Homo sapiens: one gene and its partners. The protein of the gene in region 4 purifies or fractionates together with the protein of the main gene of each other region. This does not show direct contact. Each region holds a gene or a part of one and is shown on either strand. Other genes may lie near its edges.

Region 1 (3,500 bases), on a different chromosome or scaffold from region 4:
TTAGATAGCAGTAGCAAAATTAGTGAAAGTACCGAAAGTCTCTGATAAGCAGAAATAATGGCGTAAGCTGTCTCTCTTTCTCCCTCTCTCTCTGCCTTGGCTGCCAGGCAGGGAAGGGCCCCTTGTCCAGTGGACACATGACCCACGTGACCTTACCTGTCATTGGAGATGGCTCACACTCCTTACCCTGCCCCTTTTGCTTTGTATCCAATAAATATTAGTGCAGCCAGACATTTGGGGCCACTACCGGTCTCTGCATCTTGGTGGTAGTGGTCCCCCAGGCACAGCTGTCTTTTCTTTTATCTCTTTGTCTTGTGTCTTATTTTCTTTTTTTTTTTTTGAGGCAGAGTCTTGCTCTGTCGCCCAGGCTGGAGTGCAGTGGCGCAATCTTGACTCACTGCAAGCTCTGCCTCCCGGGTTCACGCCATTCTCCTGCCTCAGCCTCCTGAGCAGCCGGGACTACAGGCGCCCGCCACCATGCCCGGCTAATTTTTTGTATCTTTAGTAGAGACGGGGTTTCACTGTGTTAGCCAGGATGGTCTCAATCTCCTGACCTCATGATCCGCCCGCCTCGGCCTCCCAAAGTGCTGGTATTACAGGCGTGAGTCACTGCGTCCAGCCTGTTTTTTTTTTTTTTTTAAATCATCGCAAGTGTTTTCACTAGTTGGTACTTTTACGTCATATCAGTGGCAACTCCTGCCTTTGAAAATGTGACTTTTTGTAGACTGGTGGGTGGCCGTCTAGTATAGGGCACAGCAGTGTCTGACCTGGTCAGAGAAAGGCCAGTGCTTCTGAAGAATCGGGAGAGAGGTAGACTTGCCCCTGGGTGGCCCTGCCTTCTGCCTCCCTGAGCAGGGACACCCAAGTACATTTACTACCCAGAGTGTGTGGCTTCAGGTGTGTGTCTTATGTTTGATCTCTCCATCCGTGTCATCTTCGTGGACAGCTAAATAAAACCAGCTGAATCAGTGAAGGACTTGTTGATTTAAACATCAGTCATACTTTAGGTCAGATGATTAACAGCACTGATGTTTAGAAATATGATACTGCTTTGCACTAGTTTCACTGCATGTTAAGGCCAGTGAATTCAAAAATTATCTGGGCGTGGTGGCGCATGCCTGTAATCCCTGCTACTTGGGAGGCTGAGGCATGAGAATCGCTTGAACCAGGGAGGCGGAGGTTGCAGGGAGCCGAGATTGTGCTACTGCACTCCAGCCTGGGTGACAGAGCCAAGACTCCAGTAAAAAAAGTAACATAGAAATGTTTTGTGTCTTTCAGAAAATTATGCAACACTTAGAAGGAGAAGGCCTAAAAAATGTCATTTTTACCAACTGTGTAAAGGATGAAAATGTCAAGCAGGTAGGCTTTTCGTCTGTGCTCTCTCTGACGCTTCTGCTTCAGTAGGTTCGAGGAGCATTATAAACTGTTTTATGCTTTAGTAAGAAGCAGAGCTTTGGAAAAGATCCTAGGTGTTGGTTTCCAGCTGCCACACACGGATGCGATCTCCTGGGGCAAGTGGGTCTCCCTGTACTGAGGGCACAAGGTCAGGCTGTAGACGCATTCCAGGGTTGTAGGTGGTCAGAGTCTTTTGGAGACTCAGGTAGCTCATGTTTCCAGTTGTATGTGGTAGAATTTTCTGGCTTGATGTGTTTCTTCATTAAAAGGTAGTTACAGCTGTCACTGAAGCCCCGGGTCTGCCCTGCTTGTTTTTGATGGGAGGGGACGGGCATAGGTGGTCCCCGGCCCCAGAGCTCAGTCTGACATCTGTGACCTGGACAGAACTCCAGTTTCCCAACACCGGATACTTGGTGTGCTACCTCCAGATGAAGGGTGACGCCCAGTTTGCCTATGAAATGTTGGGTAGAATTCCAGATAGGAGGTTTCTGTTTTCCTAACGGATATGTGAAAGTGGAGACACTGGAATCCCTAATCCTGTTCTGAGGTGGCAGAAGGAGCGGGTCAGTGCACAGACGTCCGACCTGGGGTGGCTCCATGAGTGGGTGTTTGTTGCAGATCATCCCGATGGTCACTGAACTGATTGGGAGAAGCCACCGCTACCACCGAAAAGAGGTTGGTTGGTGGGGCCCAGAGCTGGGAGTGGGAGGCGGGCGTGGGATGGGCCAGCCCCTCCTGCCTGGCCTCTCCAAGGAGAAGGCGCAGCGCCCCAGGCAGGGAGGCCCCTCCTTTGTCCTCTCATTCTCTTCAGTGGAAAGGGCCGAGGCCGTCCCCGCTGGGTGGGCAGAGCCTCGGCGTTAACCTCCCTTCTTCCCTGAGCTGACCTGGCCTGGGGTCCCCTTGCCTGGGTGGGGTTGCAGAGTCTCAGGCTCTAGCGGCCACGGTGGGCCCTGTGACCCCTCTCTCTGCCTGCGCAGAACCTGGAGTACTGTATCATGGTCATTGGGGTCCCCAACGTGGGCAAGTCCTCCCTCATCAACTCCCTCCGGAGGCAGCACCTCAGGAAAGGTACTGGCGCGTGCGGCTGATCACCTCAGGAAAGGTACTGGCGCGTGTGGCTGATGTGCTGATGCCACCATCTTTCTTGGAGGGGACGTGCCCGAGGAGCACTGCCAGTCTTCTGCTGACCCCGCAGCCCCAGAGCACATCTTGTCTCGTTCAGTCCAGTTCACAGGAGGGCTGAACAGTGGGACCAGGTCGTTCTGTGAATTTCACACTTAATTTTTCTCTCTTTTAAAATCTTTAACATGAAGATGGCTTTTCTAAACTTTGATATTTGTTCATTTATTTAAATCCCTTTGGCCGGGTGCATGGCTCACGCCTGTAATCCCAGCACTTTGAGAGGCCGAGGCGGGCGGATCATGAGGTCAGGAGATTGAGACCATTCTTGCTGAAACGGTGAAACCCCGTCTCTACTAAAAATACGAAAAATTAGGTGGGTGTGGTGGCGGGCACCTGTAGTCCCAGCCACTTAGGAGGCTGAGGCAGGAGAATGGCGTGAACCCGGGAGGCGGAGCTTGCAGTGAGTTGAGATTGTGCCACTGCGTTCCAGCCTGGGCGACAGAGCGAGACTCCGTCTCAAAAAAAAAAAGAAAAGAAAAGAAAAAAAATCCCTTTGATCCAGAGAATACAAAGCGTGTGAAGTAGACGGGGCTGGATTATCAGGCAGGGAGGCTGCAAGGCCATTCCTCCATGGCGTCCGCCTTGCCTTTGCTGGAGGGTTCCTGGACTCCGGAGTCGCAGGCGCTCCTTTCCTCCCTCTGTGCCTGTTCTCAGACTCTGATTCAAAGCAGGAGCCCCGAGCACCCTTCACTGCCCCGTGGGCTCTTTTCCTTAAGTATTTTCAAGTTTAATTCAAGTCCTTGTTGGCTTCATTTTTCATATTAATAAGGCATTTATTAACAAACCCATTCATGATGTGCAAATCTGAAGGCTTTAAACTACGGTGAACTGTTATTTTACAGAGAGGGTGTTTTTGGTGCTAATTGGAGCATTGTTACAGTCATTTATTCTTTTAAGTTTATTTTTAAGCGTATTATTTTTTA
Region 2 (4,106 bases), on a different chromosome or scaffold from region 4:
CCTCTCTCAATGTAGATGGCTCTGTTCCTATGAAAAGGGACCCAGACCAGGGAGATAAACCAGCCCATAAGCATCTGAGACATATTTTGGGTCTAGGGTTCCCACCTATTACTTACACTGAGCAACCCACCACAAGGGCCTCCTGAGTGGCCAAAGACCCTGCTGAGATGACACTGGGCCATGGGGTAGAGGGCCTTGCAGGCAAAGGTGCCACTCCGCAGCAGGTGCAGTGGAGGCCGAGGCTTGGCCATGAGGAGCACATCAGTGAAGAGGAAGAACATGCGGGGCCGAGGCTCCCCATGGGGAGGCACCACTAACAGCCAGCCCTGGCGTAGGAACCAGCGCCCTGGGGGATGGGAGCGCTGTTATTCTGGTGCAGCTTCAAGATACATGGGAATAAGAGGAAAGGGAGGCTGAGAAAATAGGGGTTATGTGCTGGGTCAGTACAGGAAGAAGGGTGAGTAAGAAAAGAGCAGCTGGTCGGCATTTGGAGTTAGATAAAAATAAAAGATGGGGCAGTTGAGGATTGAAGGGGAAGTAGGCAAGCTACCTGAGGTCAGCCCCTTTGCCTGGCGTCCACTGAGCAGAGCCTGGACACGCCGAAGGTGCTGGTCATTCTTCTGTTTCTGACCAATAGTATGGACTCTCTGGGCAGTCTCACTTATCAGTCGGGCAGCCCCTGGAATAACATCTCCCACCTTACTCCCCATACAACTTTGACTTTGGGTGCCATGGTTGTGAAAGAGGTTATTCTGGAAGGGACCAGGGTCAGGGTCTGACTTCTTGAAGAAAAGGCAGAGCAGTAGGGACACTGTATACATGTCAGTGGAAGATAGGGTCATACCAGACATTGTTGGAGGTCAGAATCAGAAAGGAATACAGGAGAGGAAGCCTCCAGCCTGCGTTGCCGAGGAGCAAGAACCTACGTGTGAGCTGTTGATGGTCAGGGCTGTTGGGACCTGTGTTTTCAGCCAAAGCTACGACGAGATTCTCATACCTGGAATTCAACAGTGGGAAGTCTGAGGGGAAGCAGAGCCAGGCAGAATTCCCCCTGCCTGATGTGCAGATCACCCTCTACCCATACTTCAATTGAAGGCCAGGAAAGATCTGCTTCTGGCTACTGTATCCCCTTCTTTCATGTAGGACTCAGAACCAGGCTCACACCACACAGCCCTCTTCCATCCCACACTGAAGAGTCACTGGCAGACTAGCCATACTTCAGGAGGCCAGATTGGAAGATGAAAGTTTATCAACCCAAGGAGGATGCTACAGACAGCCTGACTATAGCCCTTAACTCAGGCTTAACCCAGAGACAGAAATTCTAACCCAGGCCAGCCCCGCATCTGAAACTTTTCCAGAAACCGTGCCTCAGGCCCTAGTACAGGCCCCCTCACTTCAATTTAAAGTTCCACAGTTCCAGCTGAGGGCCTCAGGCTGCAGACCCTGGGTACTCCAATGGGTTCACATTTACTCTTGCAAAAGGTTTTTAGAAGCAATTTGGCTCAGGGTCGAGGCAAGAGTTTGGGATCGACCCCAAGGCATCCCACAAAGCTGAGGGCAGCAGTCATACAAACTAAAAGAGAGAGGCGGCTGGAATCAAGAGTTCACTCACTGCTGGAGCCGTTGCAGAGGCAGAGGGAGCAGGTCCTGGAGCTGAAGGCCCCCAAACTCAGGGCGGCCTTCCTGAAGCCGTACAAACCTCCGGAAACCTTTATTTTTCTTTAGCTGCTCCTGGAGTGAGGGAGAAAGGATTGGAAGCAGGGAGAGAAGCCACTCCTTATATTGCATTCATCTGTATCCACATTCCCAGCCTTCAGTAAGCTGTGCTCCTGAGAGAAACTCTCGTTTCTCTACAAGGAACTTACCACAGAGCTGAGCACCCAGAGGGCTCTATAAATGCAGGAAATGTATGAAGTTTGGGTCTCCAGATGAAGGGGAAAGGTAAGGGGCAAGATTTGAGGTCATCTCCAGGTTACCTGCAGGGTGGTCTGGGACCTCTCTGAGTTGGCAGCAAATTGGTTATAGAGCTCCAAGTGGCGGCAGAAGCCCTCCAGCCCTTGGCCCCAGCATCCTCCTTCCAGGTAGGGAAGCAGCTCCCTGTGTGGGCAAGGACAGCAAAAGGGCAGCTCTAGAACCACTCAAGCACCACCTCATTTAGTTTTCATGAGAATAGCACTAATAGTAGTGCTATTACCCCATTGTACAGATGGAGAACAAGGGCATGCTAAGGCCCTGGGCCAAGGCCACAGGTGAGCTAACTGGCGGACTCCAAATAGAACCTAAGTCTGACTCCAAGCTCTGTGCACGGCCACAGGCCAGGACTCTCCCTCCTTTCCTCTCCCTGTGCCCCTTCCACTCACTGGCTGGCGCCGTAGATGAGCTCCCAGGAGCCAAACAGGGCCTGGCGCTCAGGTGGTCGCAGGGTCCCCTTGGCTTTCAGGATCCCCAAAAAGTACTGCGGAAGGAGAGAACATTGGTTCTTAGCCTAGAGGAAGAGAAGGCTAACGCCAAGCGCCCCCAGAAACCGCAGAAGTCTGCCCAGGCTCCCTACATGCTCCGGGTTACCGACCTCGCAGAGACCCTCCCACACCCTGGGGTCCCTGTCCTATAATGGGAGCGTGTGCCAGGTCCCCCACCGTGGCCACCAGCCCCAGCTGTTCTTGGTAGCGCCGCTCGGTCTCTAGCAGCTCCCGGGCGGTGCAGGCGCGTTTCCGCTCCCAGCGGGCACGCTGCTCTTGCACCGGGCACCGCGAACCGGGGCAGGAGAGCTCCATGCCCTGGCTGAGGGATCGACACTTCCGGCTGCAGTCCGCGGCAGATTCAAATCCCAACCGCTCGCGGGCGGGAGCCGCGGAGGCGGGGCCGGGGAGGGCAGCGCGCAGGAAGGAGCATGCGCGGCGAGCGGCCGGACCGCGCAGGGTCTCTTCTGTCCAGCCCCACCGCCAGAGCGGCGCTTTAGGTGCGCGGCGCCGGCCAAGGCAGGGCAGGGCAGGGCAAGGTTGGGGGCAGGTGTGGAGCCCTCCTCTGAGTGGCACTATGTTGGAGCAGCAGCCTGAACTTTGAGTCAGGAGACGGGCTGCAGATGCTGGCAGGAACTTAATGTCCTATCTGGAGAATTGGGACGGGGGGCGGTCATTACAGTACACATTCTGTCCTGGGCCCATGCCAAATGCCAGGGGGTCAGTTGTTCCCAGAATTGGCTAGGAAAAGGTATAGCCATTTGAAGGAATGATATGAAAGTATTAAAAATGGTGTTGTAAAGAAGCTATCGATATGGGAAAACGCACATAGTAAGTATATTGCTGAGAGGAAAAAAAGCAGGCTACAAAGGTGTATAATATAATCCCCTTTGTATAAAACATATATAAAATGTTGGAAGGCAAAACAATCAAAAGTTAACTCTGTTGCCAGGCACGGGAGCTCACACCTGTAATTCCAGCACTTTGGGAGGCAGAGGCAGGAGGATCACCTGAGCCCAGGAGTTCGAGACTCCATCTCTCCAAAAAAAAAATAAATAAATAAAAAATAAAAATAAAAAGTTAACTGTGGTTTTTATCTCCGGGTAATGGAATTGAAGATAATGTGTTTAACAAATGTGTATTAAGTACCTAATCTGTATCTGTGCCAGGCACTGGATCACTGAAGCTAAAGGGATGAATGGGACAAACAGGGTGATTTTAAAAATTCTCTTATACTTCTGCCTTTCCCAAGTTTTCTACATTAAGCATGCATTACTTTGTAGTTAGAAAAAAAAAGTTATTAAAAAAAACAAAATGTCAGAAACTTTAGGCTCCCTCCCTACTGTTTTGGACTCCTAGGAATCTGGGCCGCAAGCCAAGAACCAGAGGATTGTCAGGGTTCTGAGGTCTCTACCACCTCCCCACCAGCTCTGACATTCTAAGAATTCTAAGAAAGGAATAATGCTGGGCTTAGACCAGGGAGGAATAACTTGAAGGGCTTGGATGAAGGAAGGGGAGAGTTTGGATCAGACTGTACCTTGGGCTTATGTCCCAAGGAAACTGGTGGTGATACCAGATAGGTAAAGGACTGGTTACACTGTCTCAAGTGAATGTGGGACAGTCCACACACTAAGAGCTCAAACATGG
Region 3 (3,500 bases), on a different chromosome or scaffold from region 4:
CAGACCTCCTGCTCCCTCCTGCCCCCAACCTGGGGTGGATGTTAACTGTCTCCAAGAGGCAGGGGCAAGATGGATTGAGGTGGGAGCTTAGGGAATATCCCTGGGACTTGCAGCTGGTGGGCTCCAACCCTCCTTTCTGCATTTTTGGGACCCAGCCTGTAAGAGGAGTGCTGAGGCAGGAGGTCCCCCTGGGTCCTCAGCTCTCAGGTTAAGTCTTAAGTAGAATGTCGGGGGGATGCTGGACAGGCCTGAGCCCTGACTCCCAGCCTGTGGGGTGGGGTGCATTAGCATTAGCTGGTCCTGGCCCCAGAGCTGAGTCACAGGGTGGAGGGGTAACGGAGAACAGGGTGGGGCCTCTGTTTCCCCCCGACCTCTGCAGCCTTTGCTCCCCATCCCTGGCCTCCTGCCTGTCTGTGGATACCTAACCATTGCAATGGGTTCATTCTTACTCTTTGGGCTCCTCATCAGCAAAAGAGGCCTTTCCTTCCTCTAAGGCCATGGACAGGAAAAGTCTATAGATGCACTTCCACTGTGCCAACTTTCTCGGCAGGTGGAATCCAGGCTAGTTCAGTATCTCCTCTTTAGCTAGGTTCCTTCTGCGGAAGTTTAACTCCAGTTTCTTCACCCTGCTGTTTTCTACCTTTCTTCTTACGGTTCTTCCTACTCCTTGGGACCTTCTTGAATCCCTGTGTCCAACGTCTGGGGGCCCCACACATATGCCTGAAGGACCTGGCATGGGCTCCCTGCAGCAGAAGTGGTGTCCGACCCCCAGCTGTGGAGGACCAGGCAGGAAAGAGGCTGGGAGTCCTGGGCAAGTTCCTGCCCCTCAGGGCCTTGGCCTCCTCTGTACAGTAGTAGGATGGAGGTGGAATCGAGGGTTGGACACCTGATCTTTTGGGCCTTTCTAGCTCTGAAGTCTCTTACTGGGTCCTATCCTGGGCCTTGGGGTGATCCCCCTTCTGCTGCCCAGGGCTGGGCTGTTGAGATGGTGCAGGAGGTGGTCCAGGGAAGGTGGCAGAAGGACTGAGTGGGCTGGGAGCTGGGGAATGCAGATTTCTTTTGGGCGCTGTGTGAGCAGCCCTGGAGACTCTCTGAACTTGAGTCTGTTTGCCTGAAATGCTACTATTAGCCGATTAGCCATGCACTTATCAACTAACATGGATGTTGCCCCTTCTAAAGGCATCCAGAGTTATTCCCAGCATGTAGAGCCCTGGGCCTGATATACAGTAAGTGCTCAATGAATGCATTTAGAATGCACTGGACAATTTGAGCCAGGGAGTGAAGAGAATATTATCTAGACAGCCCTCAAGAGCCCTCCTTAAAGGAGAAGTGGGAAAGCATGGGTATTGAGCATGCTATCTGTGTGTAGTGGGTGCGTTTGCAGTGCTCAGGGGTGTGCTGTCCTCTATGCCAACCCTTCCCTGCTCCTAATCTTCTTTGTATGGTGGATTCTCTGCAGCCCTCGGCGACTGAGTGCCAGGCACAGGCAAACTTCCTTCTCTTCCCAGCAACTGTCCCCACTGGCTTAAAGGCAGAATTCGTCAAGTCCCTTTTAATTCAGAACTGAAATTCATTCACCAGCTGCTTGTTCATTCATTCAGATTCTTCTAAATTGGGTCCTCTGCCCAGGTTCATCTCCACCCCCCATCTGTCACCTGGTTATTACACAACCTCCTCGAGTTCCCTGGGGGCTGGGATGAGGAGGGAACAGGGCGTGCATGTCTGGGAGATACACCAGGTGGCCTTTGAAGAGTTGTTTTAGAATCAGCAGTGTGATGGGGGTGGGGGTGGGGAGCCAGGGCACAGGTGACATGGGAGAGACATTCTGTCAGGGGAACTGGGAGAGGCTCCAGTGTAGAAGTGGCACCTGATCGGGGCCATGAATTATGAATAGGAATCCAGGGGGCAGAGGTAGGAAGGTAGGAAAGAGCCAGGTGAGTTTGACGAACATGGGGGTCAGTGTGGAATGCGTGCAGGGGCCAACTCCCAGAGGTGAGGGCCCCCCAGGCCAGGCAGATTGGTGTGGACCTTGATCTGTAGGTAGTGGAGAGCTAGGAAAGGTGCCCAGCTTGGGATACCTCTTTAGATGCTGCAGAGAACCTGTCAGAGGCTGGGGCGGAGGGCAGGGAGACGTGGCGGGGCTGTTGTAGCAGTCCAGTGAGGGACAGGGTTGAATCAGTTCAGCAGGCCTATATCAGGATCTGCTGTGGGCCAGGCCTTGTTCTGGGTACCAGAGACACAGAGAGGTTGAGGACAGGCTCTATCCTCATTGAATTCATAGTCCATCAAGCAGGGCTGTGACTGGTCACATGTGGGCTACTGGTGGCACTGCACATTTGGAGAGAAGATGATGTGCTTGGTTTAGGAGGTGCTGAGGGTGATGGCTTGGGTAACATCCTGGCAGAGACACCCAGGTGGCTGGAATGTGGGTCTGGGGCTCAGGAATGACGTCCGAGTTGAGCTGATGAGGGTGCTGTCTGCCCTCAAGGGTACAGGGAGCACATGGAGATCAGAGCCCTCACACGCTGTCCTCTGCTCTGCCTATGCCAGGCGCCTTCGCCAAGGTGAAGGAGAGCCAACGCATGAGTGACGAGGGCCGCATGGTGCAGGACGAGGCAGACGGCATTCGCAGGCGCTGCCGCGTGGTGGGTTTCGCCCTGCAGGCCGAGATGAACCACTTCCACCAGCGCCGTGAGCTCGACTTCAAGCACATGATGCAGAACTACTTGCGCCAGCAGATCCTCTTCTACCAGCGGGTGGGCCAGCAGCTGGAGAAGACCCTGCGCATGTATGACAACCTCTGACCGCGTGTGCCTGGGCCCCCTCCTTCCCCTGGGCCTGGTCACTGCAGTGTACCCCACTTTCCCGACCTCCCTATACCAGCAGTGACTGGGGGAGGGGTCAGCGGTGGGGGAGATAAGCGGCCTGTCCTGCCTCCTGGGAGAAGGAGCTTTCAAGGAGTCATGGGTGCCCCTGGGAAATTCCCCACTCCTTAGAAGTGGGGCACAGCAGGGGTGAGAATAGAGTCAGGAGCCCTCGAGGCCAAGGCCTGGGCTGCCGGTCAGTCAGTGAAGGTCAGGCCAGGGTCTCAGCCTCCCCTAGAGCCTATTTTGCTTGCTCACCTGGCCACTGCTGCCTTATCCATTCAGCAGACACCGAGGCCTGCTGCACCCTTGGGTCGGATGCTGGGCACCCAGGGCTGTGACATGCCTGCTCTTCAGGAGTCCTCAGTGAAGGTCGGGGTCAGACACAGACAGAGTCAATGCAGTATGACTGATGTTTAAGTGAGGGATTTCTGGAAGCTCATAGAAGGGACCACAGCATTCCACTGGTCAGGGAAGACTCCATAGAGTAGGCAACATTTGGGCAGTGTTTTGAAGAATGACAAGGGCCTGCCAGACAGTACATGGGGGAGAAGGACTTTCAGGGGAGAGGAACAGCATGGGCAAAGTTATGGAGGCATGCAAACATCTCCCTCTTCTCTCCCTTACTTTCCAAGC
Region 4 (3,146 bases):
TCAGCCTGATAGAAACGACTTGTGGTACAGGCCCTAAGTCAGGTACGCTGCTGCCCAAGAGCCTGACTGGTAGATGGAGATGTGAAAGGGACACAGGGCTCTCCACGTAAGCAGGAGGCAGCAAGAATGACAGTTCCAGGGGTTCTACGTGGAAGGAAGAGGGGGCCAGGAGGAAGGGACTTCAGGTCAGATTGAGGGGGCATGTGCCATCCGGAAGAGGAGAATGTCGATGTAACTGTGAAAGTCCAAGTCCTAGCTGCTTTTCCACTGCCCTGGTGTACAACCTCAGGCCCTGCAGACTGCACATCTGAGGACCCCTGCCTGCCCTGTCTGGCTTCTCTGAATCTAATAAGGGAGAAGATGCGTTTGAAAAAGAACACGGAAGAGGGAGAGAGAAAAAAAGCACCAAGGTCCATGTTCAGAGAGCCCTGGTAATTTTAACTTGCAACTCACCCAAGAAGAGCCTAATGGTCGCAAGAGTATGTAGGAAGGCCCCAACCCGACCCGGCCCAGCACGCAGCACCCAAGGGCGGCTGGAAGCGCAATGCGCGTGCCCAGTACAGCGCTATTCAGTCTGCAGGCTTTTTGAGGATTTCAACTTCAAAGAACGGTCGGCTTCGGGGCGAACTTTGCTTCAGTTCCAGGCCTCGGGAGGCAGCGAGGAGACAGACTGGGACACCGAGCATGCAGAAGGGGAGTGGTCTTGAAATACGCGGAAAGGGAGAATGCACCCCTCCTGGCCAGCCTTGCCGGGCGAAGTGAGAAGTACTGAGGCCTGAGAAGGCTCCACGCGTGCGCAAAGGGCCGCTCGCTGTGATTACTGGGGTGGCGATGGTTGTGATGACGCCGCTGCCCCGCCTGCGCCGAAAGGGAAACCCCAGGGGAGGCGGAGGCCAGCGGGGATTTCTGAAGCCAAGTGGTCCCCTTCATCCACGACGGACAGGAAGGGCGACCCCCTGAGGCCACTTCCAGGTCTTGCGACCGGAGGAGAGTTACCAAGGAGACGCTCCTCCCGAGGCCTCGCGCGTCGGAAGCTTCTGTCCCCTGGATTCCGGTTGACGGACGCGTCCCCCGAGCAGGTTCTCGGTAGCAGCCGACACGCCCCACCCCGGGCACAGCGAGGTCTGAGGACCACGCTAAGGCGTCACGTCCGCCCTGATCCGCGGCAGCTATGGAACGGGCGGAGCCGCAGCGGAGGGCGCTCCGCTTTGACGTCACTTCCTGTGAGCCCGGCGGTGACAACGGCAACATGGCCCTGAACGGAGCTGGTGAGGACCTGGGCGGCAGGGGTTTGTGGCTGTGAGGTACGGGAGGCAGCCCACTCCGGCAAGACCCCCAGTCCCTATGCCTCTCTTCCCCAGAAGTCGACGACTTCTCCTGGGAGCCCCCGACTGAGGCGGAGACGAAGGTGCTGCAGGCGCGACGGGAGCGGCAAGATCGCATCTCCCGGCTCATGGGCGACTATCTGCTGCGCGGTTACCGCATGCTGGGCGAGACGTGTGCGGACTGCGGGGTGAGGCGAGACTCGGGCGAGTGACCGGGGATGGGTCCGCGGGCCAGGCCACTCAGCCCTTCCCCGGCCCTCCCCTCTGGACCCCATTGCCGGCGTCTCATTCCGGCCCCGTGTGCTTTTTGGTCCGTAGACGATCCTCCTCCAAGACAAACAGCGGAAAATCTACTGCGTGGCTTGTCAGGAACTCGACTCAGACGTGGATAAAGATAATCCCGGTAAGAGTAAAAAATAATCCGGGAGAGGGGCCGGATATGCTTAGGGGGGAAGCGTGGTTAAGTGGTGATAGAGGCCCGAGAACAGTAGGGCTGAGAGGTGACAGTGGAGTCTCTGGGTGGGGTAGAAGTAAAATTATTTCTCCTTTAGGCTCTAAAGAGGACCCTTAACTCAATAAGAGCACCAAGCACCTCCTGTGTGCCAGCCACTGCGCGAGAGTCTGAGCTCAACCAGGCCCAGTACTGATGGAGAATTGAAGCTAGGGCATAAATGTGATACAAAGTAGAAAGTGGATGAGTTGCCTTATAGAGGGACAGGGAAAACACCTCAAGCACAGAAAGAGCAGAGCAGAAAAGGAGATGGCTCAGGGCTGAGGTGGGCCAGGCATCCTGACCATTCCACCCACTTTCTCCTCTTTTTAGCTCTGAATGCCCAGGCTGCCCTCTCCCAAGCTCGGGAGCACCAGCTGGCCTCAGCCTCAGAGCTCCCCCTGGGCTCTCGACCTGCGCCCCAGCCCCCAGTACCTCGTCCGGAGCACTGTGAGGGAGCTGCAGCAGGACTCAAGGCAGCCCAGGGGCCACCTGCTCCTGCTGTGCCTCCAAATACAGATGTCATGGCCTGCACACAGACAGCCCTCTTGCAGAAGCTGACCTGGGCCTCTGCTGAACTGGGCTCTAGCACCTCCCTGGAGACTAGCATCCAGCTGTGTGGCCTTATCCGCGCATGTGCGGAGGCCCTGCGCAGCCTGCAGCAGCTACAGCACTAAGAGAAGCCCCTGAGAAAAACCCTCTAGAAAAACAGCTGTTCCTCTGTGTGGTTTGTTTTTTTCCTGGTTCCAAGTGTGCATGCCAGCCCCAGCTCCACTCACCTTTTTCCAGCTTTTGGCCTCTTCACCTCTCCACTCTGCTCTCCTTGACGCCCTGAGATGAGTTGAGCTTGTTTCTTCTCAGTTTCCCCAGTCAGGATGAGGGAGTAGGTAGAGGACTATGTGATGCCCCTTTTCTAAGGAAGAAGCCATAGCCTTTTCAAAGGTAGCAGCCAGAGGGGTGGACCCTAGCCTTGTCTCTGGCAGCACCTCTGCAGCCTCTTCCGCCATCTGGTGTCCATTCCCCACCTGGAAGTGAGGTTTTGTGTTCCGATCCCCTTGATAGATTCCCCTCCTTCCCCTGAGCATCCTGACCCTATCAGCCTATCCCATCTCATGCCCACCCCAGGTACTCAGACACCGACAGGAGTTTGTGGTGACCCCAGCGTCAGGTGGCACGTTAGGCACCAAGTGTGGACTTGCCAGTCTCCTGACTCCACTGTTAGATCATTTTCCTTGGGTGTGGGGGCGGGGCGGGGCGCGGCGGGGAGACGGGGTAGCAAAAAGAACCGTGAAGAAACCACGCCTGCCCCCTTCAGCCTTTTCCCCCCTCCG
Region 5 (3,084 bases), on a different chromosome or scaffold from region 4:
TAATATTTTGATTCAATAAACAGATTATGACTGTACACATATCCTTCCAATAATAAAGGATATTCAGAGTTAAAACTCAAGTATATTTCCAGGTTCCTTAAATTGTTATAGGATTTTATTTTGTTTTCTTCTTATTCCAAGAGCAGTGGCATACTGTAATGAGGTATGATTATTGTCGGATATTTTCTAGTCTCATGGTATGCAACTACCACAAATAACTAAAGGCATGAAAACTTGTATTATTTCATATCTTCCTATTATGCATATGCCATCTTTCTGAACTAGTGGTTTTGGCAGGATTTAGGAAACCTTTACAAATGACACTACGATGTAGGCAGCTCAATAATTATTACGTATTTTAGTGGAGTTATGCAAATGTTTGCTCATTTTGTTGATCTTTTGGATTCAGCTACGTTTGGTACTTTTTTTTTTTTTTTGCAGTTGCAAGATTTAATAGAGTGAAAACAGAGCTCCCCTAAAATGGGAGGGGACCCAAAGGGGGTTGCCGTTGCCAGCGGTACATTTTTTATTCTGTATTGCTATTTATAATCACATTATGTTGGCCGGGCACAGTGGCTCACGGCTGTAATCCCAACACTTTGTGAGGCCGAGGCGGGCGGAACACAAGGTCAGGAGATCGAGACCATTGTGGCCAACATGGTTGAAACTCCGTCTCTACTGAAAATACAAAAATTAGCTGGGCGTGGTGGCATGCACCTGTAGTCTCAGCTACTCTAGAGGCTGAGGCAGGAAAATCACTTGAACCCGGGAGGTGGAGGTTGCAGTGAGCCAAGATTGCGCCACTGCACTCCAGCCTGGGCGACAGAGCGAGACTCAGTCTCAAAAATAATAAGAAGGCCAGGTGCAGTGGCTCACACCTGGAATCCTAGCACTTTGGGAGGCCGAGGCGGGCGGATTGCCTGAGTTCAGGAGTTTGAGACCAGCCTGGGCAACACGGTGAAACCCCGTCTCTACTAAAATACAAAAAATTAGCTGGATGTGGTGATGTGCACCTGTAGTCCCAGCTACTCAGGAGGCTGAGGCAGGAGAATTGTTGGAACCCAGGAGGCAGAGGTTGCAGTGAACTGAGATCGTGCCACTGCACTCCACCCTGGGCAACAGAGCAAGACTCCGTCTCCAAAATGATGATAATAATAATAATAATGAAGAGAAGGAGGAGGAGGAGGAAGGAAGAAGAATTGCATTACATTATGTTTCCTTGTGGGGCCGGGTATAGTGGCTCATGCCTGTAATCCTAGCACTTTGGGAGGCCAAGGCAGTCAGATCAGTTGAGGCCAGGGGTTCGAGACCAGCCTGGCCAACATGGTGAAACCCCGTCTCTACTAAAAATACAAAAATTAGCCAGGCATGGTGATATGTGCCTGTAATCCCAGCTAGTTGGGAGACTGAGGCAGGAGAATCGCTTGAACCCAGGACGCAGAGGTTGCAGAGAGCCGGGATCATACCACTGCACCCCAGCCTAGGCGATAGTGATACCCTGTCTCAAAAAAAAAAAATTGCATTATGTTTCTTTGCTTTGTGAATTAAGCTATGGAAATGAAGAAAAATATCCTTTGATGTATTGTATTTTAGGATTTTCATGGCCATGCTTGTCAGTTCTGTTGTTACAGAATGTCACCCTTAGTTACTTTGGGAAATGGTAATTAATTAACGTTGCAGGTGTCAAAGTAATTTCCTCTCTCTTATTTTTCAGCTATACTGACTTCTGTTGAAACCATTCAAAGCTAAAGACATGGACCTTCAGCAGTGTAAGAAGATATTGTACAGTATATTTTAAATCTATGAAATTCATAGTTCTGATGCTTTTGGTCACAGAGCATCATTTTATCACTTCTGGAAAATGTTTATTCCAAAACAGCTTTAATGGCCCATATGTACACTTCGTAATCTCAAGGTTATTATTCTGACACCAGCTTGCTGCTATGATTTCAGAGCACATAAGTAAAGGTGCTTTTTAATGTGCAGTCTATTTCCAGAGCTTACTTAGTTGCTGATTTCCAGATTTCGATGTTTCTTAAGTCTAGGTGAATTTATATATATATTTTTTTGCTTTTCATTTTCTAAAGTTAGTTATTATTTCCATTGAAGCTTGTTTTCTTTTTTTTCTTCCCATTTTAGCTACTGCAGTGCTTTTGTTTCACACTTGATTTGTAAAAATTTTATATATATGTATTTAAAATGTGCCATTTTATTGCTAAGTGAAGTATGTCCTGTTTTCTGCTATAATTCTTTCTCGGTCAGATTGCAATGTCAGCAGTTACTGCCACACTCCTGTCAGCTTAAACACAAATGTTACTGCTTATCTTTTCTTAAAAAAAAAAAAAACAAAGTGTAGGTATTTTGAAGTACTGGGCTTATATTTCATTGGAATACATGTGTACAGCAATAAGCAGGTTTCCAAATCCGGTACTTAGTTTGTGTACAAATGTAATTATGTTCATTGTGTATATATTATACAATGAGCACATGTAATGTATTAAAGGCTACTTACTATTGTTTAAATGCAAATGTTCATATCTCATTTCTTTTTTTATCATGTTAAATAAATGTTGATGTTCTTAAATCAGTGTTAGAATTTTTGTTCTTTCCATCCAAAATTGAAAGTCTTAAGACTCAAGAGACCTCTAGAAGAAAAGGTACTCTGTTAATTTTATAATCCTAGACAACATCTTAAAAGATCCTTGTCGGTCCAACCCTCCCATGTCAAAGTTGAGGACCTTGAGGCTCAAAGAGATCAATTGAGTTGGCCACAATTTAATGACAGAATTTTGACCAGACTATAGTTTTTTCTGACTTTTTCTCTAAGTACATTACATTAGCTCATTACCACTAGAGGAGTTTAGTTTTGTGAAGTCTTTTACCACGTTTCTATTTGCTTCCATGTTTCAGAAAGTAACTTCAAGCATCAGTAGTCCTGCTCTGTTTAGGGATTGGACTTTGAGAGAGGTGTGTAAGGCAGCTGTTTGTCTGACATGGGTAGCTAGAAACCGTTTCATCGTAAGTAGGACCCTCAGAGATCATTTTCTCTTACAATACATTCTTTGCAGATGTTCACGCTCTTCA
Region 6 (3,500 bases), on a different chromosome or scaffold from region 4:
GGGTCCCATACCGCCCTACGGACCTGTTCGATGAGGTGCACCTCCACCCTGCCCTCCCAGCCCCCTGCCCTGGCTCCGCCTGACCATGGCTTACCTAACCTCCTGCTTACCCCGCTAGCTGGTGGCCCACGAGGTGGCAAGGATGCGGGCGGATGAGAACCACCCCCAGCGTGTCCTGCGTCACGTCCAGGAACTGGCAGAGCAGCTCTACAAGAACGTACGAGGGTAGCAGGACGGGAGGGCGTCGTACCGCCTTGATCCCTGGGCCCCTGCCCCACACCTGCCGTCTCCCCACAGGAGAACCCGTACCCAGCCGTGGCGATGCACAAGGTACAGAGGCCCGGTGAGAGCAGCCACCTGCGACGGGTGCCCCGACCCTTCCCCCGGCTGGATGAGGGCACCGTGCAGTGGATCGTGGACCAGGCTGCAGCCAAGATGCAGGGTGCACCCCCAGCTGTGAAGGCCGAGAGGAGGACCACCGTGCCCTCAGGGCCCCCCATGAGTGCGTAATGAGGGAGGGGAAGGCAGGCCCCGAGCGTGGCCCAGGATGGGCGTGGGGTCAGGGGTCCGAGTGTGTGTATTCTGTCCCCGCAGCTGCCATACTGGAGCGGTGCAGTGGGCTGCATGTCAACAGCGCCCGGCGGCTGGAGGTTGTGCGCAACTGCATCTCCTACGTGTTTGAGGGGAAAATGCTTGAGGCCAAGAAGGTGAGGGCTGTGCAGGCTCCAGCCGGGCCAGGGCAGCGGGTTTCAGAGGAGACCCAGGCTGCACTTCACCCTTGTGAGTGCTGACGCTGCCCCAGGGCCTCCTCTGCCTAACAGACAGCTAGAGGTGGCTGGGCTGGCCGGAGGGTAGGTGGGCTCCAGGTCTCCTCTCTTGACCTCAGTGAGGGGTGGGTCGGGCCTGCGCGGGAGACCCAGCCAGGGAGATGTACTTCCATTTTTAGAAATCAGAAGGTTTCACTATTATGTTTCGTCTGTGTCCTTCCCCTTAAATTGGGTAGGCCCATACACGACCTGTTCTTTGTACTTGATGGAAAACAGAGCTTGCTCCCTCCATACGTGACCTGTTCCTTGCATCTTATGGAAACAGAGCTTTTTGCTCCTGCTGTTTTGCTCTCTGTGGTGCTCACTTAACGCCTCTGGGGTCTTTCATCATGGCCAGTTGGAGACTCTTGTTTTTCATTGGCTGTATGGTGTCCCTTTGGGGCGGCCAGTTTTGTGATGAACGTTGTAGCAATAGAACGCAAACTCCAAGGCTTTCTGTGGCCGGGCCTGTGCCAGGCGAGTCACTGAGCCAGCCAGGCAGCTGTGAGCCTGTGAGCAAGGGGGCCCGGCCCGCAAGGCCTCCCTCCGGAGCGCACCTCCCTGCCAGCTCACAGGTGCAGCATCTGCGTCCTTGTGTCTGGCCTGGTGAACTTGTACTTGTGGAGTTGTCGGGCCCACTGGAGGTTTTAGTCTTTATTGGTCGGCAAAGCCCCAGAGTCTGGCACACCCCACCTGAAAGGCATTTGGGTCTCCTGGACACCTGCTGCCCTCCCTGCCAGGGCCCCGAGTGGGTCTTCTCTGTGCCCTCAGCCCGTGTCTCCTTTCCCCACCCCCAGCTGCTCCCAGCCGTGTTGAGGGCCCTGAAGGGGCGAGCTGCCCGCCGCTGCCTCGCCCAGGAGCTGCACCTGCATGTGCAGCAGAACCGTGCGGTCCTGGACCACCAGCAGTTTGACTTTGTCGTCCGTATGATGAACTGCTGCCTGCAGGTGAGGCCTCTTATCCTGCTAGTGACATGGCTCATGGCGCATGAGCGGGAACAGGCGGGCAGACCCTGGTCTGTGAGTGAGAGTGGAGAGACGGTGCAAGAGACTCCTGTGCCAGTGGGCAGGGGTCCTCGGTCTGCAGGGAACAGGGTGGAGAGAACCATTGTTGGGGGCAGGTGCTGGGGCCTGGGGTCTCCTGATATTGAGCCTCTGAGGCAGCCTTGGGGAGCTGGAGCCAAGGGTGTCAGGTGCTGGTCTGTGGTGGTTATGGGGTGGTGGGGGCATGGTGGGAGGTGAGTGCTGCCTGGGAGGGGAGAGGTCCTGACGGTCTCTCGCTCTACCTGCAGGACTGCACTTCTCTGGACGAGCATGGCATTGCGGCGGCTCTGCTGCCTCTGGTCACAGCCTTCTGCCGGGTGAGTGCTGGCATGGCTGAGGTCTCCTTCCCAGCCCCCCCTTCCTGGTGGCTGAGGTCTCCTTCCCAGCCCCCCTTCCTGGTGGCCGAGGTCTCCTTCCCAGCCGCCCTTCCTGGCTGCATCCAGCTGACCTTCTCCCCTGGCTCCTGCAGAAGCTGAGCCCGGGGGTGACGCAGTTTGCATACAGCTGTGTGCAGGAGCACGTGGTGTGGAGCACGCCACAGTTCTGGGAGGCCATGTTCTATGGGGATGTGCAGACTCACATCCGGGCCCTCTACCTGGAGCCCACGGAGGACCTGGCCCCCGCCCAGGTGCGCAGGGACTCCCTGGGCTGGGGGCTGGGGGCTAGGGGCTGGGGCAGCGTGGCCCCGGCTCATGCGTGTGGTGCCGTGGCAGGAGGTTGGGGAGGCACCTTCCCAGGAGGACGAGCGCTCTGCCCTAGACGTGGCTTCTGAGCAGCGGCGCTTGTGGCCAACTCTGAGTCGTGAGAAGCAGCAGGAGCTGGTGCAGAAGGAGGAGAGCACGGTGTTCAGCCAGGCCATCCACTATGCCAACCGCATGAGCTACCTCCTCCTGCCCCTGGACAGCAGCAAGAGCCGCCTACTTCGGGAGCGTGCCGGGCTGGGCGACCTGGAGAGCGCCAGCAACAGCCTGGTCACCAACAGGTGAGGCAGGGACTGGGGGTTGGGCCCAGTGGAGGCGGGGCCGTGGTGGGCAGGGCCCATGCCCACAGTTTCTTCTCTGGCCCAGCATGGCTGGCAGTGTGGCCGAGAGCTATGACACGGAGAGCGGCTTCGAGGATGCAGAGACCTGCGACGTAGCTGGGGCTGTGGTCCGCTTCATCAACCGCTTTGTGGACAAGGTCTGCACGGAGAGTGGGGTCACCAGCGACCACCTCAAGGGGCTGCATGTCATGGTGCCAGGTACGGGGGTTTGGGCTGGTGATTCCCCCTTGGATGGGTGGGGCTGGGCACAAAGTGTGAGAACTGTCTTCCCCCAGACATTGTCCAGATGCACATCGAGACCCTGGAGGCCGTGCAGCGGGAGAGCCGGAGGCTGCCGCCCATCCAGAAGGTTTGCGGGGGCCGTTGGGGCTGCGGGGGCCCAAGGCCCGGGCTGCATCCTGAGCTCCTGCTCTTGTTTTCGAGCAGCCCAAGCTGCTGCGGCCGCGCCTGCTGCCGGGTGAGGAGTGTGTGCTGGACGGCCTGCGCGTCTACCTGCTGCCGGATGGGCGTGAGGAGGGCGCGGGGGGCAGTGCTGGGGGACCAGCATTGCTCCCAGCTGAGGGCGCCGTCTTCCTCACCACGTACCGGGTCATCTTCACGGGGATGCCC
Region 7 (3,500 bases), on a different chromosome or scaffold from region 4:
CCTTATACAACCATCAGATCTTGTGAGAACTCATTCACTATCATTAGAAGAACATGGGAGAAACTGCCCCTATGATCCAATTACCTCCACCTAGTCTCTCTGCCTAGACACGTGGGGATTATGGGGATTATAATTCAAGATGAGATTTGGGTGGGGATGTGCAGCCTAACCATATCAACTGGTGTTCAGATGAAGAGGTTGTAGAAGCATATCTACTGCTTAAAGAGGGAAATTGGAGTCAGCAAGCTCTGGGCTTGGTTTTCTTCCACATTTAAAACAAACCCAAGGAAGAGATGGTGCAGCCGTGCAAGCCCCTGGTGGATCTGTTGTGTCTCACACAGGTTTTCTATTTTCTCTGTGTCTTCAGCAGTGTGCATCTTACTTAAACCGCCTCAGGGCTCCTTTCATCCCCAGGCCCAGTCCTCAGCTTGACACATCATAGGCCCTCAGCACCTAAGTGTTCTGAGAGGGAGTGCAGCTCCTAGAGGTCCATGTCCCATGTCCTCCTGCTTCCTGCATATCATTTGGGCCCCAGTCGGTCCTTGTTACTGCGGGTCTTGTGCTGTCTCTGGAACAGCCCTTTATGGGCACCATCTACTCACTCATTCACTTCTGTTGGCTGACGTGGCCCCTGAGCTCTCTTCCTGTGCTTAGTTAGGCCGCGCGAGGCCAGAGGTTGAGTGGGGAGGCTTCCAGCCCCTGCCTTCTGTCCCAGCTTCAGGCTGGCCTGGTTCCATGTCCTGCTGTCCTGCTTCAGCCATTCCTCTATGTGGCTTTCAGTCCTCTCACAGATTTCTTCATTTTTGCAAGGTAGCGTGGGAATGATGACTAGCACATGGCAGCACACATCAGGCAGGTTTATGAAATTATGTTTTAAGAGAACACAGAATCACAAATTACTCATCCTGTATATGTGTTAAAATGTGTAACCTAATTGCTGAACAATGAAAAGCAATTCCTTTTATATTTAAAAACTCACTAGTTAGCTGAGAACCTAATGGTAGTTGCAATGTACTTTAAATAGAAAAGTCCTCTTGCTTGACAAAGGTAAAGGAAACTGTTCGGTCCGACTTTGTTCCTTTCATGCCTGCCAGGGCTTCTGGTTTCACGGAGACCTCAGGCTAGGAGCAGCCCTGAGCAGGGAGACTGAGTTACAGAGAATCCCCACCAAGTTGCAGGCAGAGGGACAGCCGAGGCCCTCAGGAAGTACACGAGAGCAGAACCACTATGGCAAGTTCACTGAGAAATCTGGAAAGTTAGAATCCCAGCCCGAGTCCATCAAATGGAGCATCATAAAATTAAGTTTTCCTTACTGTGAAATGGCAATTTGTAATGATTTCTGAGAAGTGGGACCCATGGTGGTGTCGATGTCTGAGCCAGGTGAGGGTGAGATCCCTGGCGCCATGGGCTGGCCCCCAGGATGCCCTGGAAAACGCATTCTGTTCACAGCTGTGTGATTCTTTTCTTTCTGTGTTGGTGAAGCAGCCAGACCCGGTCCGTTTGGAATGCCTGGGATGGTGCCGCCGCATGTTCCTCCTCAGATGCTCAACATTCCGCAGACCTCTCTGCAAGCAAAGCCCGTGGTAAGGCCTTCCCTGCGTTGGGTCGGGTGGCGGGTCTCAGACAGGGTGCGTGCATTGAATTTCAACGAATGCTAAAATAAGTTCCTAACCTCTTGAATTGATACGTGAAATAGATGCCAGTGTTTGTTGAAATAAAAATGAGCCAGGAAACGTCAGCCTGGGCCTGAGTCGGGTCCTGCTGGCCACGTGTGCGTGACCTGTGCCCTTCGCTTCAGGCCCCACAGGTGCCCAGCCCAGGGGGCGCCCCGGGCCAGGGTCCATACCCGTACAGCCTCTCTGAGCCAGCACCTCTCACTTTGGACACGAGCGGGAAGAATCTGACGGAGCAGAACAGCTACAGCAACATTCCTCACGAAGGGAAGCACACGCCGCTGTATGAGCGGTCCTCGCCCATCAACCCGGCCCAGAGCGGCAGCCCCAACCACGTGGATTCCGCCTACTTCCCTGGCTCTTCTACATCGTCATCTTCCGACAACGACGAGGGCAGCGGAGGGGCGACAAAGTGAGTGGTGCGTGGGTCGCTGGGTGCTTCCTGGCGGGTAGTGACCTGGGGAAGCTGCCTTCTGGCCTGCCAGCCCAGCTGGTGTTTTGCTCAGAGATGTAGTTTATTGCAGGTGGGTGATGGTCAGTCTGTACTCAGATGGGGGCTCCTTGGACAGAGAGGAGAGAGGAAGAGTAGGTATGTTCTTGAAGTTTCCATGATTTAAAATCTGCACTATCCCAGCCCCATGGCCTGGAGCCACAGGAAACTTTCTGGGGAGGAATTTGACAAGAACTGGTTTGTGTGATGACCAAAACATGGGGGCATTTGTCCGGTGTGGTGCCACTCACACCCGTCACAGCAACCCCCTGCCGACCCCCGAAACATTAATCTTCTGGCTCCTGGATCAAGGGAGCTCTGAATTTCCTCTCCTTCTCCTAAACTCAGCAGGTTACAGGACACTTTGGAAATAACACTGTTTGCCCAAGCAAAACCCTAGAAAGCTGCCTAGACCCAGGCTGGAATTGTTTCCTTAGAGGAGTATTTTAAACACTGTGTGTCCCTGAATAAATGGGTTCACAAATACATAGTTGGTTAAAATTTGATCGAGGAAATCTTTAATTTGCACTCCTCCCTTTCTTTAAATTGTCTTATGTTTAAAACAAAAAAAACAGGGAAAGAATATTTCTTTTCTTTAAGTCAGTGTCTCCTTTTCCTTGGTGTGAACTCTACTTTACAGCGCAGATAACCAGGGCTGGTTGATGTTACATCTGTTTCTGATGTAGGAAATGTAAGAGACATAGGTGTCAGCTTCCATGCCAGTTCTTACCTTGTGTGTCACCTGAAGCAGGTGATCTTTTCCTCTCTGTCCTCTGTCCATCTGTGAAATGGGAATAAATGTCTGTTGACCCAGGGCAGAGCTTACTGAAGGACTCTCTGCCATCCAGGGATGCATACCCTGTTTATAGCAGAGAAGTATAACATTAATAAATGTTGATTTGTTGTATGTGCAGAGAAGTATAAAATTAATAAATGTTTATTTGCTGTATATGCAATGCCAAGACTCTAAAATGAAGTAAAGAGTTGCAATTGAATATTCAAATTTTTAAATTAACCTCTAGCAAGATAATATATTGAGTACCCATTGAATCAGAATCTCTGGTTGGGGCCCCCAAATTTGCATTTTAAATAAGCACCTCAGTCAGTCTTTAGCACACTGAAGTTTGAGAACAACTGCTTGATGGTCTTGGAAGCCCTTATGTGCCAGATTTCTAAGGCATGTGCATTTTGTTGTAAAACGTGACTCATGTCAGCAAGGTCCAAGTGTCTGTACAATACAGTTTTTGTCTTAGTAAGAAATGTTCTTTCTAAACTGTGAAACATAGGTAAGAAGTAAGACAAAAAGCAAAAGAAGTAAGCTTTATGACCCCAACAAG

What was found.
Region 1: the proteins of ZNRD2 (region 4) and MTG1 purify together in Homo sapiens (co-immunoprecipitation; 3 studies listed by BioGRID and IntAct, with this or other methods). This does not show direct contact.
Region 2: the proteins of ZNRD2 (region 4) and ARHGEF39 purify together in Homo sapiens (co-immunoprecipitation; 3 studies listed by BioGRID and IntAct, with this or other methods). This does not show direct contact.
Region 3: the proteins of ZNRD2 (region 4) and SNX33 purify together in Homo sapiens (co-immunoprecipitation; 3 studies listed by BioGRID and IntAct, with this or other methods). This does not show direct contact.
Region 5: the proteins of ZNRD2 (region 4) and PLEKHA5 purify together in Homo sapiens (co-immunoprecipitation; 3 studies listed by BioGRID and IntAct, with this or other methods). This does not show direct contact.
Region 6: the proteins of ZNRD2 (region 4) and SBF1 purify together in Homo sapiens (co-immunoprecipitation; 3 studies listed by BioGRID and IntAct, with this or other methods). This does not show direct contact.
Region 7: the proteins of ZNRD2 (region 4) and FAM120A purify together in Homo sapiens (co-immunoprecipitation; 3 studies listed by BioGRID and IntAct, with this or other methods). This does not show direct contact.

Annotation. Positions count from the first base shown.
Region 1 is NC_000010.11:133,397,157-133,400,656, forward strand, and holds part of MTG1 (mitochondrial ribosome-associated GTPase 1), read left to right. Parts: intron 1-1,278; coding exon 1,279-1,359; intron 1,360-2,013; coding exon 2,014-2,070; intron 2,071-2,372; coding exon 2,373-2,463; intron 2,464-3,500. UniProt on the Homo sapiens protein: Plays a role in the regulation of the mitochondrial ribosome assembly and of translational activity. Displays mitochondrial GTPase activity.
Region 2 is NC_000009.12:35,662,396-35,666,501, forward strand, and holds the start of ARHGEF39 (rho guanine nucleotide exchange factor 39), read right to left. Parts: upstream 2,801-4,106; 5' UTR 2,775-2,800; coding exon 2,637-2,774; intron 2,456-2,636; coding exon 2,361-2,455; intron 2,098-2,360; coding exon 1,977-2,097; intron 1,732-1,976; coding exon 1,613-1,731; intron 998-1,612; coding exon 927-997; intron 680-926; coding exon 551-679; intron 347-550; coding exon 117-346; intron 1-116. UniProt on the Homo sapiens protein: Promotes cell proliferation.
Region 3 is NC_000015.10:75,654,412-75,657,911, forward strand, and holds part of SNX33 (sorting nexin-33), read left to right. Parts: intron 1-2,550; coding exon 2,551-2,804; 3' UTR 2,805-3,500. UniProt on the Homo sapiens protein: Plays a role in the reorganization of the cytoskeleton, endocytosis and cellular vesicle trafficking via its interactions with membranes, WASL, DNM1 and DNM2. Acts both during interphase and at the end of mitotic cell divisions.
Region 4 is NC_000011.10:65,569,243-65,572,388, forward strand, and holds ZNRD2 (protein ZNRD2), read left to right. Parts: upstream 1-1,234; 5' UTR 1,235-1,249; coding exon 1,250-1,268; exon of another isoform or gene 1,269-1,361; coding exon 1,362-1,513; intron 1,514-1,643; coding exon 1,644-1,728; intron 1,729-2,148; coding exon 2,149-2,492; 3' UTR 2,493-2,646; downstream 2,647-3,146. UniProt on the Homo sapiens protein: Might play a role in mitosis. Antigenic molecule. Could be a centromere-associated protein. May induce anti-centromere antibodies.
Region 5 is NC_000012.12:19,373,817-19,376,900, forward strand, and holds the end of PLEKHA5 (pleckstrin homology domain-containing family A member 5), read left to right. Parts: intron 1-1,714; coding exon of another isoform or gene 1,715-1,749; 3' UTR 1,750-2,584; downstream 2,585-3,084.
Region 6 is NC_000022.11:50,461,536-50,465,035, reverse strand, and holds part of SBF1 (myotubularin-related protein 5), read left to right. Parts: coding exon 1-35; intron 36-118; coding exon 119-217; intron 218-297; coding exon 298-502; intron 503-594; coding exon 595-707; intron 708-1,603; coding exon 1,604-1,753; intron 1,754-2,097; coding exon 2,098-2,166; intron 2,167-2,318; coding exon 2,319-2,477; intron 2,478-2,562; coding exon 2,563-2,831; intron 2,832-2,916; coding exon 2,917-3,089; intron 3,090-3,166; coding exon 3,167-3,240; intron 3,241-3,317; coding exon 3,318-3,500. UniProt on the Homo sapiens protein: Acts as an adapter for the phosphatase MTMR2 to regulate MTMR2 catalytic activity and subcellular location. Promotes the exchange of GDP to GTP, converting inactive GDP-bound Rab proteins into their active GTP-bound form.
Region 7 is NC_000009.12:93,514,185-93,517,684, forward strand, and holds part of FAM120A (constitutive coactivator of PPAR-gamma-like protein 1), read left to right. Parts: intron 1-1,482; coding exon 1,483-1,583; intron 1,584-1,798; coding exon 1,799-2,085; intron 2,086-3,500. UniProt on the Homo sapiens protein: Component of the oxidative stress-induced survival signaling. May regulate the activation of SRC family protein kinases. May act as a scaffolding protein enabling SRC family protein kinases to phosphorylate and activate PI3-kinase.